2 linked regions of the Homo sapiens genome follow. The protein of the gene in region 2 interacts with the protein of the main gene of each other region in a pairwise test. Each region holds a gene or a part of one and is shown on either strand. Other genes may lie near its edges.

Evidence for each region. Proteins that work in one complex are often made in the same cells at the same time.
Region 1: the proteins of SLC10A1 (region 2) and LRP10 interact in binary tests that used the Homo sapiens proteins (3 or more experiments, as listed by UniProt).

Annotation. Positions count from the first base shown.
Region 1 is NC_000014.9:22,874,740-22,878,489, reverse strand, and holds part of LRP10 (low-density lipoprotein receptor-related protein 10 isoform 1 precursor), read right to left. Parts: intron 3,436-3,750; coding exon 3,245-3,435; intron 3,160-3,244; coding exon of another isoform or gene 3,136-3,159; coding exon 2,118-3,135; intron 1,802-2,117; coding exon 1,672-1,801; intron 1,551-1,671; coding exon 963-1,550; 3' UTR 1-962. UniProt on the Homo sapiens protein: Probable receptor, which is involved in the internalization of lipophilic molecules and/or signal transduction. May be involved in the uptake of lipoprotein APOE in liver.
Region 2 is NC_000014.9:69,776,517-69,780,266, forward strand, and holds part of SLC10A1 (hepatic sodium/bile acid cotransporter), read right to left. Parts: intron 2,845-3,750; coding exon 2,666-2,844; intron 2,014-2,665; coding exon 1,817-2,013; intron 1-1,816. UniProt on the Homo sapiens protein: As a major transporter of conjugated bile salts from plasma into the hepatocyte, it plays a key role in the enterohepatic circulation of bile salts necessary for the solubilization and absorption of dietary fat and fat-soluble vitamins.

The sequences.
Region 1 (3,750 bases), about 47 Mb from region 2:
GGGTGGAGGGTAGGAGTCATGACTCCTGTGTCCCACCAGGGACAGCTGCTCCTATGATCTGGGCTCAGGGTATGCTCCAAAAATGAGAACCTTCCTGACCGCAGGGCCCAGCTGGCTCCCCTGACTTCTATGCTGGCAGTGAGGAAAGAGGCCCTGGAGTCAGTCATTGCAGAGCTGGGCCCCAGGCATTTGAGTGAAAATGGAGAGGATTGATCCTTAGGGTTCCTAGAATTTTCTTACCTTCTGTGTGGTATAAAAATCAAGAGTGCAGTGGTTGGGAGATGAACAGGAAGAGGGCAGGAGGTAGAGGGCCAAGCAAAGGGCTCCACAGGGAGGAGTGGGATGAGGTGAGCATAGACTGAGATGGGCAGAGGCGGGGCTCAGGCTCGCAGCTAATTTGCAAAATTTTGAGATGTATGATTCCTTTATTTTTGACCTCAACTTACTGAGCAATGCCGTAGCTATGGAATAGAAGCATTTGTTGCACTCTTTTTGTGAGCCAGGCCCTGTAGGAGGGATTGTGGATGGCAAAACCTCAGGTTCTGCCCAAATCCTCCCCTTGGGGGCTGGAGGGTCTCTAGTTAATTGGCATTCCGGTGCTTAAGGCCACTTTTGGGTAGAGGTTTGGCAAGGATGGAGTGTCCAGACCTATGATCCTCTAAGAACTTTACTTTTTAAAAACAGCCACCCAAATGGTGGTGGCGTGGGGAGCAGGTGGTGGTGAAGGGACTGGGGTGTCTGGCCATGGCCACGTACAGAGGAGACTCTGTGAGCCCTCTCCCTGCCTGAGGGACACTTAACTTTATAGCAGCTACATAGGGTCAACGGGAGGCCCACCAAGTCCCTGAAATCCAGGGACAGGGAAGGAAGTGGTGGAGGGGAGGCTGACCCACCTCTAAAAGGTTGTGCCACTATGAGTAGAGCCCCCAGGGGAGAGGCCTCAGTAGAGCCCCCAGGTCCCCTCAGGTAAGCAGTGGCTCATCCTCTGCCTCAGCTACCCACACCCCCGGCTCAGCCAGTGGCACCAGTAGCACATCGTCCTCATCTTCCAGGGCCAGGACTGCTGTGTGGGGTCCAGGGGGGCTCCGGGTTGGTCCTGGGGGCCCCAGGCTGGGCAACAGGCGGCCTCGCAGGGCCTGCACCACTCCAGACAATAGTGATGGCTCTAGGGGCAGTGAGGGCAGTGGCCCTGGGGCTTCAGGGACAGTAGTGGGGGCTGGAGACGTGCTAGCAGATGGGAGGGGAGCCTTGATGGGCAGTGGGGGTGCCTGCTCCCCATCTTGCCCACCCACTGCCCCGCCCTCACGGGCTGGACCTGTGCCACCATCTAGGGCCTCAAGGGGAGCAGCAGAAGGTGTGACCTGGGATCTGGCCTCAGAGGCCCGAGCCGGGGTGTTGGTTCGAGGGAGCAAGCCCCAGCGGCGGAGACGGCGTACCAGGCGTCGCATCAAGCGGCCCCGCTGACGACGGCGGGCACCTGGGCCACCTCCTGGAGTCATATCCTGGCGTAAGATCTGTAGCAGAGAACGCAGGTTGCCCAGCACTGAGTTCTGCAAGGAAATGAGGAGGCCTCAGAGTCAGAGGGCCAAAGGCTGAATGAAGGAGGGTACAGGGGCGGGGCCACAGCAGAACTGGGACCAGGAGGTGCTAGGGTTGTGGGGAGTGACTTACATCATTAGGATTCTCTGTAGGAAAGTCTTCTACAGGTGGGATGGCACCCTGGGCAATGAGCTGCCCGTAGGAAGGGGGTGCCTGCTGCTGCACAATCTCAGCCTCCATCCGGGAGAGGGGGGCAAAGATGCTAGAAGGAATGAGGACTGCTCAGTCACTGGTAGTTCTCGGCCAGAGTAGACCACCTCAGCCTGGACAGTCCTCCCACTTCCACACCCGGGCCAGGCCAGCTGGAGCTGTGCCATGGCTTTCCCAAAGGTCATCTGAGGTCCCTCCTCCCTTGAAACTGCTTTCAGGATCTGGACCTGTCCCTTACAGGACACAACTGACAAGCTGATCATGGGAGCCTCTCCCCAAGGTGGGCACTTTCGTGGTCTCCTGTAGCTGCACAGCCCAGCCTCACCCTCAGGGTCTACTCTTCTACTGCCAGCCCCACTCCCACTGACCTGTACTCCTGGGTGCGAATGGCATAGAGCTTGCAGGTGCAGCCCAGGGCGATGACCAGGAGCAGGCCGCACACTAGGCTGCCAATGACTGCAGCTGTAATGACCTTGCGGGGCAGAACATAGGAGCAGTCCCACTCATCACTGCCGTCCGCACAGTCTGGCTGCCCATCGCACACCCACGTCTCATACACGCACTTCTCGTCCCGGCATCGGAAATTGCCAGGCTGGCAATGCCGACAGCGTCTCTCATCTGCTCCATCAGCACAGAAAGTCTGGTAGTTGCAGCGGTCAGCAGGCAGGTAGCAGGCTGTGGCACCAGAGGTGCCAGCAGCCCCACAGGGGAAGTGTCCAGGTGGGCAGCCTGGGCAGTCCTCCTCATCTGTGCCGTCAGCACAGTCCCATGAGCCGTCACAGCGCTGTGCCTCACTGTAGCAGCGCTCACCTAGGCCTTCGCCAGCTCCCAGGCCAGAGCCTAAGCCACAGGGTCTGTCCCAAGGCAAGCAATAGCCCCGCACATGGTAGGTGGCATTGAAGCCACGACCATTGCTCCAAGCAACTGTGTGGTAGGACACAACAGCCTGGCCAGACAGTGTCTCCACAGTGACAGCCTTGCCATTGCTGAAGTGGGTGAGACTACGCAGTAGTCGGGAGCTCTCAGGGGGCCCAGGGCCGTCATACACATGCACTGCATCTCCAAAGCCCAAGTCCAGGGCTGTGAAGCGCACGGCCAGCCGCCGGCCATCATGGGGGTCCAGCAGCCAATGGCAGGACTGGGGGTGGGAGACTGAGGCTAGGTGTGTATATCCAGGAGAGGAGAAGACCCCATAGAAGTCCTCCAAGGTGACATTGCAAGGCAGGGAGGGGACGGGTCTTGGGGTCAGGCCAGGGAAGGGGTCTGAGCTGCAACCTGCTTCATCAGAGCCATCGCCACAGGCATCAACCCCATCACAGCGCTGGACAGCAGATACACAGCGGTGGTTCAGGCACTGAAACTCTTCCTGCAGGCACATCAGCCAATCTGCAGAGGCACCATGGAGAGGGGCTGTGAAGCACCAGAACCCTCAGGATCCTCCCCTTCTGCCTGGGGCTTTCACTGCCTGCTCCTCAGACATCCCTGTCCAGCCTACCTTGGCTGTAGGAGAGCAGGAAGCCCTGGCCCATGGGTGCTCTGGCCCCAGCATAGCTGTAAGTGATGGTGACGTTGCCCCCGGGCAGCTGCAGAGGGCTGGGAGGTGCCTCACACAGGGAGATCAGTGGCTGGAGAGGGGAGCGTAGGGTTAAGCGCTCTGAGCCACAGGCCAGGTGTAGCTTCTGGAACCTATGGGAGTAGAGGAGAGCAGGACATGAGATACTCTTGACTGCTGCTGGCTTTCTCCTCCCCTGGTGCCACCAGGCCCCTTGTGTCCCAGGAAGCATAAACATCTGCTTATCCATGATCTAAATGGCCAAATGAAAACTCAGTTAGCCTATTTATTTATTTATTTAGAGACAGAGTTTCACTCTTGTCACCCAGGCTGGAGTGCAATGGTGTGATCTTGGATCACTGCAACCTCCACCTCTTGGGTTCAAGTGAGTCTCCTGCCTCAGCCTCCCAAGTAGCTAGGATTACAGGTGCCCGCCACCACACCTGGCT
Region 2 (3,750 bases):
TCTGTCGTCTCTCCCATGGTTTACTCTTTAAACTCACTTTCCCCTCAGTCTCCCTAATGGTAGTACTAGTAGTAAAAGTCCTAATGAATTAGACTATTGTGTCTTCATCATCACTTCACTTCTAACTTCGTTATACAGTAAAACAACAGGAGATGAGTTTATGTATGCAAGGTCTGTGTTGCATTCAGGGAATGAGGAGGCAGGCAGGAAAGATCTTCGAGAAAGTCTAACCAAGAGAGTTTCCAGTTCTTCCCTCCAACCCCCAATTGATCTACCTCTTCTTGTCCGTGGTGTAGGCGGTGATGCAAATTTGAAGATAGCTTTGATTCCTGCACCTTTCTATACAGATGGGAGAGTTCTCTATACAGAGTTGTTCTCCCATCAGGTGCAGGAATGAAAAGTATAAAAACTTGACAGATTCCTCCCCCCTGAGAATAGCTTCTTGGGGCCATTAGGTCCAAAGAAATACGTTGCTTTGATTTAGTGTTTCCACTGGGGTCTTCTGAGATACACTGTGAGGAAAGTTCTTTTCAAGTCTTGAGAGCTAAAGATCCATAGAGTATTGTCCTTTGAGGTCACTTCAGGTCTTTCTGGTACTAAAACCTCAAATCTGGGAATTTGGTTGGTCTAGAAACTTCTGTGCACTTTTTGTAAGAGGGCAGCAAATCTCTTGCGTTCCTCTCAGATAAGCATCAGAGTAGATTCTTTCTCACAACTCTACTGTAGCTTTGAACCAAAGCTTCTAAAATGGTTCTAGTGTATGGTCAGCCTGTACTTGTTTCGTGTTGGCTGCTTGGCAACCTAATTACATCTTAGCTAATTGCAAAGGGAGAGAGAATCGGCATTTGCTTGCTAGTATAATGTAACAAATTCCAATAGGGAAAGTTGTGTATTTCTCCTAGGGTGTAAATCACAGTCCCTAGGGTCTAGAAAGGTTTTGAAGGGGACTTCAATTCATGGACATGAAGGGACAGTTGAAGGATTTGGGTAGGTACTTAGGAAGAATATACTAATGTTGAGAGTTATAATGAAATGTGTTATAAAGTGGGTTTGAATGTCCTGTTTTTTTTTTTTTTTTTTTTTTTTTTTAAAATTGGTGTTAAAGTGCACTTTGAGGAAGGCACTCTGTTCTCTGGTCTGTCTTGAGGTTCAATTTTATTTTGAAAGGTAATACTCTGAGCATTTTAGAGAAGAGATGCTATGTTAACCCCATAGTGATCAGAGTAAAGTATAAATCATATTAAGTTTATTGTGGAGGTAGTTACTGTTTAACAACCGTATGCTTAAGTTTCCTTTACTGCGTAACTAGAGTTGAGGAATCTTTTTTTTTTTTCTTTATTCTGGGTTATATTAGGGTGCATTGCTTTCATATGTTTTTCCTCATACGGAGGTGCCAGTGGTGCTGTGGCTCTGATCTGGTTCCAGGAAATGAGAACCTAGTCCTGAGAAATGGAAACTTCCCCAACTCTTGCGAATAGAGGCCTTTCACACAACTAATAACCTCAGTTGTCCAAGGCAGTTTTGTCCTATGATGTCTCCCCACTGAGACAAAGCAGCCCAAATTGCTTCAGTTTTATGAGGTAAACTGCATCTGCAATTTCATTCTCCCAGCTAGAAGGAAGAAATGGAGTGCAGTTGATGGAAGTAGTCTTGGATCTTTAATGCTTCTTGGGTGCTTCTTGGGGCTACCTGGTTCTTAGTGACTTGATAAGAGTTAAAGCCCTATCCAAAAAGTCCCTGCTAGAAACTTGCTTGTTGGCAGGCTCAGGTCTAATATTGGAGCAGAACTTGAAGTGGGGATAATTTCAGTACTCACCCTTGGGAGTCTTGAATTTCTCATAGCACCAAAATATGGCAATGAGGAGAAGCCCTTCTCCAAGCTGGAAAATCATGTAGAGGAGGGGAAAGAAGAAAAGTGGTCCAATGACTTCAGGTGGAAAGGCCACATTGAGGATGGTGGAACAGAGTTGGACATTTTGGCATCCAGTCTCCATGCTGACAGTGCGTCTGCACCTGTGCCGGTGAAGAAAACCCCACATACACTCAGAGGGAACTGGAGGGAGCAACTTTGTCCCAGTGCTGCTACCAAAGAGTTTCGCAGCAGATGGAATCTAGACCCTGGACAGGGGTACTTTGCTATTGCTGCTGGTGTTTGGATACCTTTGGTGTCTGGATTTTTAACCCGTTCAATACCTTCATTCAATTTTTTTCAAGTCTAAAGTCTCTTGTCCAGTTAGTGCATCTGAACATATTGCCAGGAAAGTGTCTTGCCCAGATTTCAGGTTCCTAGCTTCTTATTCGTTTCCTGAAAGACTAGGACAAGAATGAAGCCCATGGGACAGTGGGACCTAAAATAATACCTATCTCCAGGCATGCAGTGGCTCACACCTGTAATCCTAGCACTTTGGAAGGCTGAGGCAGGTGGATCACTTGAGCTCATTAGTTCAAAACTAGCCTGGGCAACATGGTAAAACCCTGTCTCCAGAAAAGTTAAATCAGCTGGTCATGGTGGCTTGTGCCTATAGTCCCAGTTACTTGGGGGGCTGAGGCAGGAGGATCAGTTAAACCCTGGAGGTTGAGGCTGCAGTGAGCTGAGAATGTGCTACTCCCCTCCAGCCTGGGCAACAGAGTGAGACCCTTTCTTAAAAAAAAAAAAAATACCTACCGTCCATTGAGGCAGAAGAGAGCAGAGAGAACATAACCCAGCAGAAAGCCAATAAAAGGCATCAGGGAGGAGGTGGCAATCAAGAGTGGTGTCATGGCAAACATGATGCTCTTCCCCACATTGATGGCAGAGAGAACTGTGACGGCCACACTGCACAAGAGAATGATGATCATCCCTCCCTGGGAATGAAGACAAGAAAAGGCAATTAGAAGAGTTGGGGATAGAGAGGAACAGAGGTGGGGAAGCACAGGTAGAAATTGGAGGTGGGAAACATTGCAATAAAACACTGGAAGTGGAAAGGAATATGAAAGACCTTTATCTTCTTTTTGGATTCCTTTCTTTAAATTTTTTTAAAATTATTAACATTAGAGACAGGGTCTTACTATGTTGCCCAGGCTGGTCTTACTCCTGGACTCTTAGCGGTCCTCCTGCCTTGGCCTTCCAAAGTGCTGGGATTACAGGTGTGAGCCACTGCACCCAGCCCATCTTTTTAGATTTCGTATCAGTAGCTAGGAAGCTTGGGGACAGCTGATTAACACTTTGATTATTACAAACTCAGCCAAGCACAGTTACTGCTTTTGACACATCTCTGGATAGCAGACTTTCAGTGAAGTGTTACGTGAGGCTATTCAGGACTCCTGCAAAATGGATATTATTTAAAAGTCAAGTATTTTTGGAACTTATATACACATTCCTACAATACTGTCATTGTTCCACATACTTTGAAACTCATGAGAACTTGTCATACATATTTGTCTCAAATACCTTGATTACAGATAGGGATTTTATCCATTTTAGGATCAATTCTGGAAATTGCCAAGAGTCATTTGAAACAAAGCTGGTAAACAAGGTGGATGATCAAGCCCGGAAATACGGTTTTAAACCCAAAATGATGTCTAATAATAAGGGGACAAACCTACTTTCTTGAGTGACCTGCAAATTGAATATGAAGGAAGTTCCCAAAAGAACTTTCAGAAATATCTTGGGTGATAACAACATCATTGGAAACTATGCAGGTCTACTCTGAATGAAATTATAGGGTTTTTCATTGTGCAACATAGGATGCAACCTTTCAAAGTGCATGT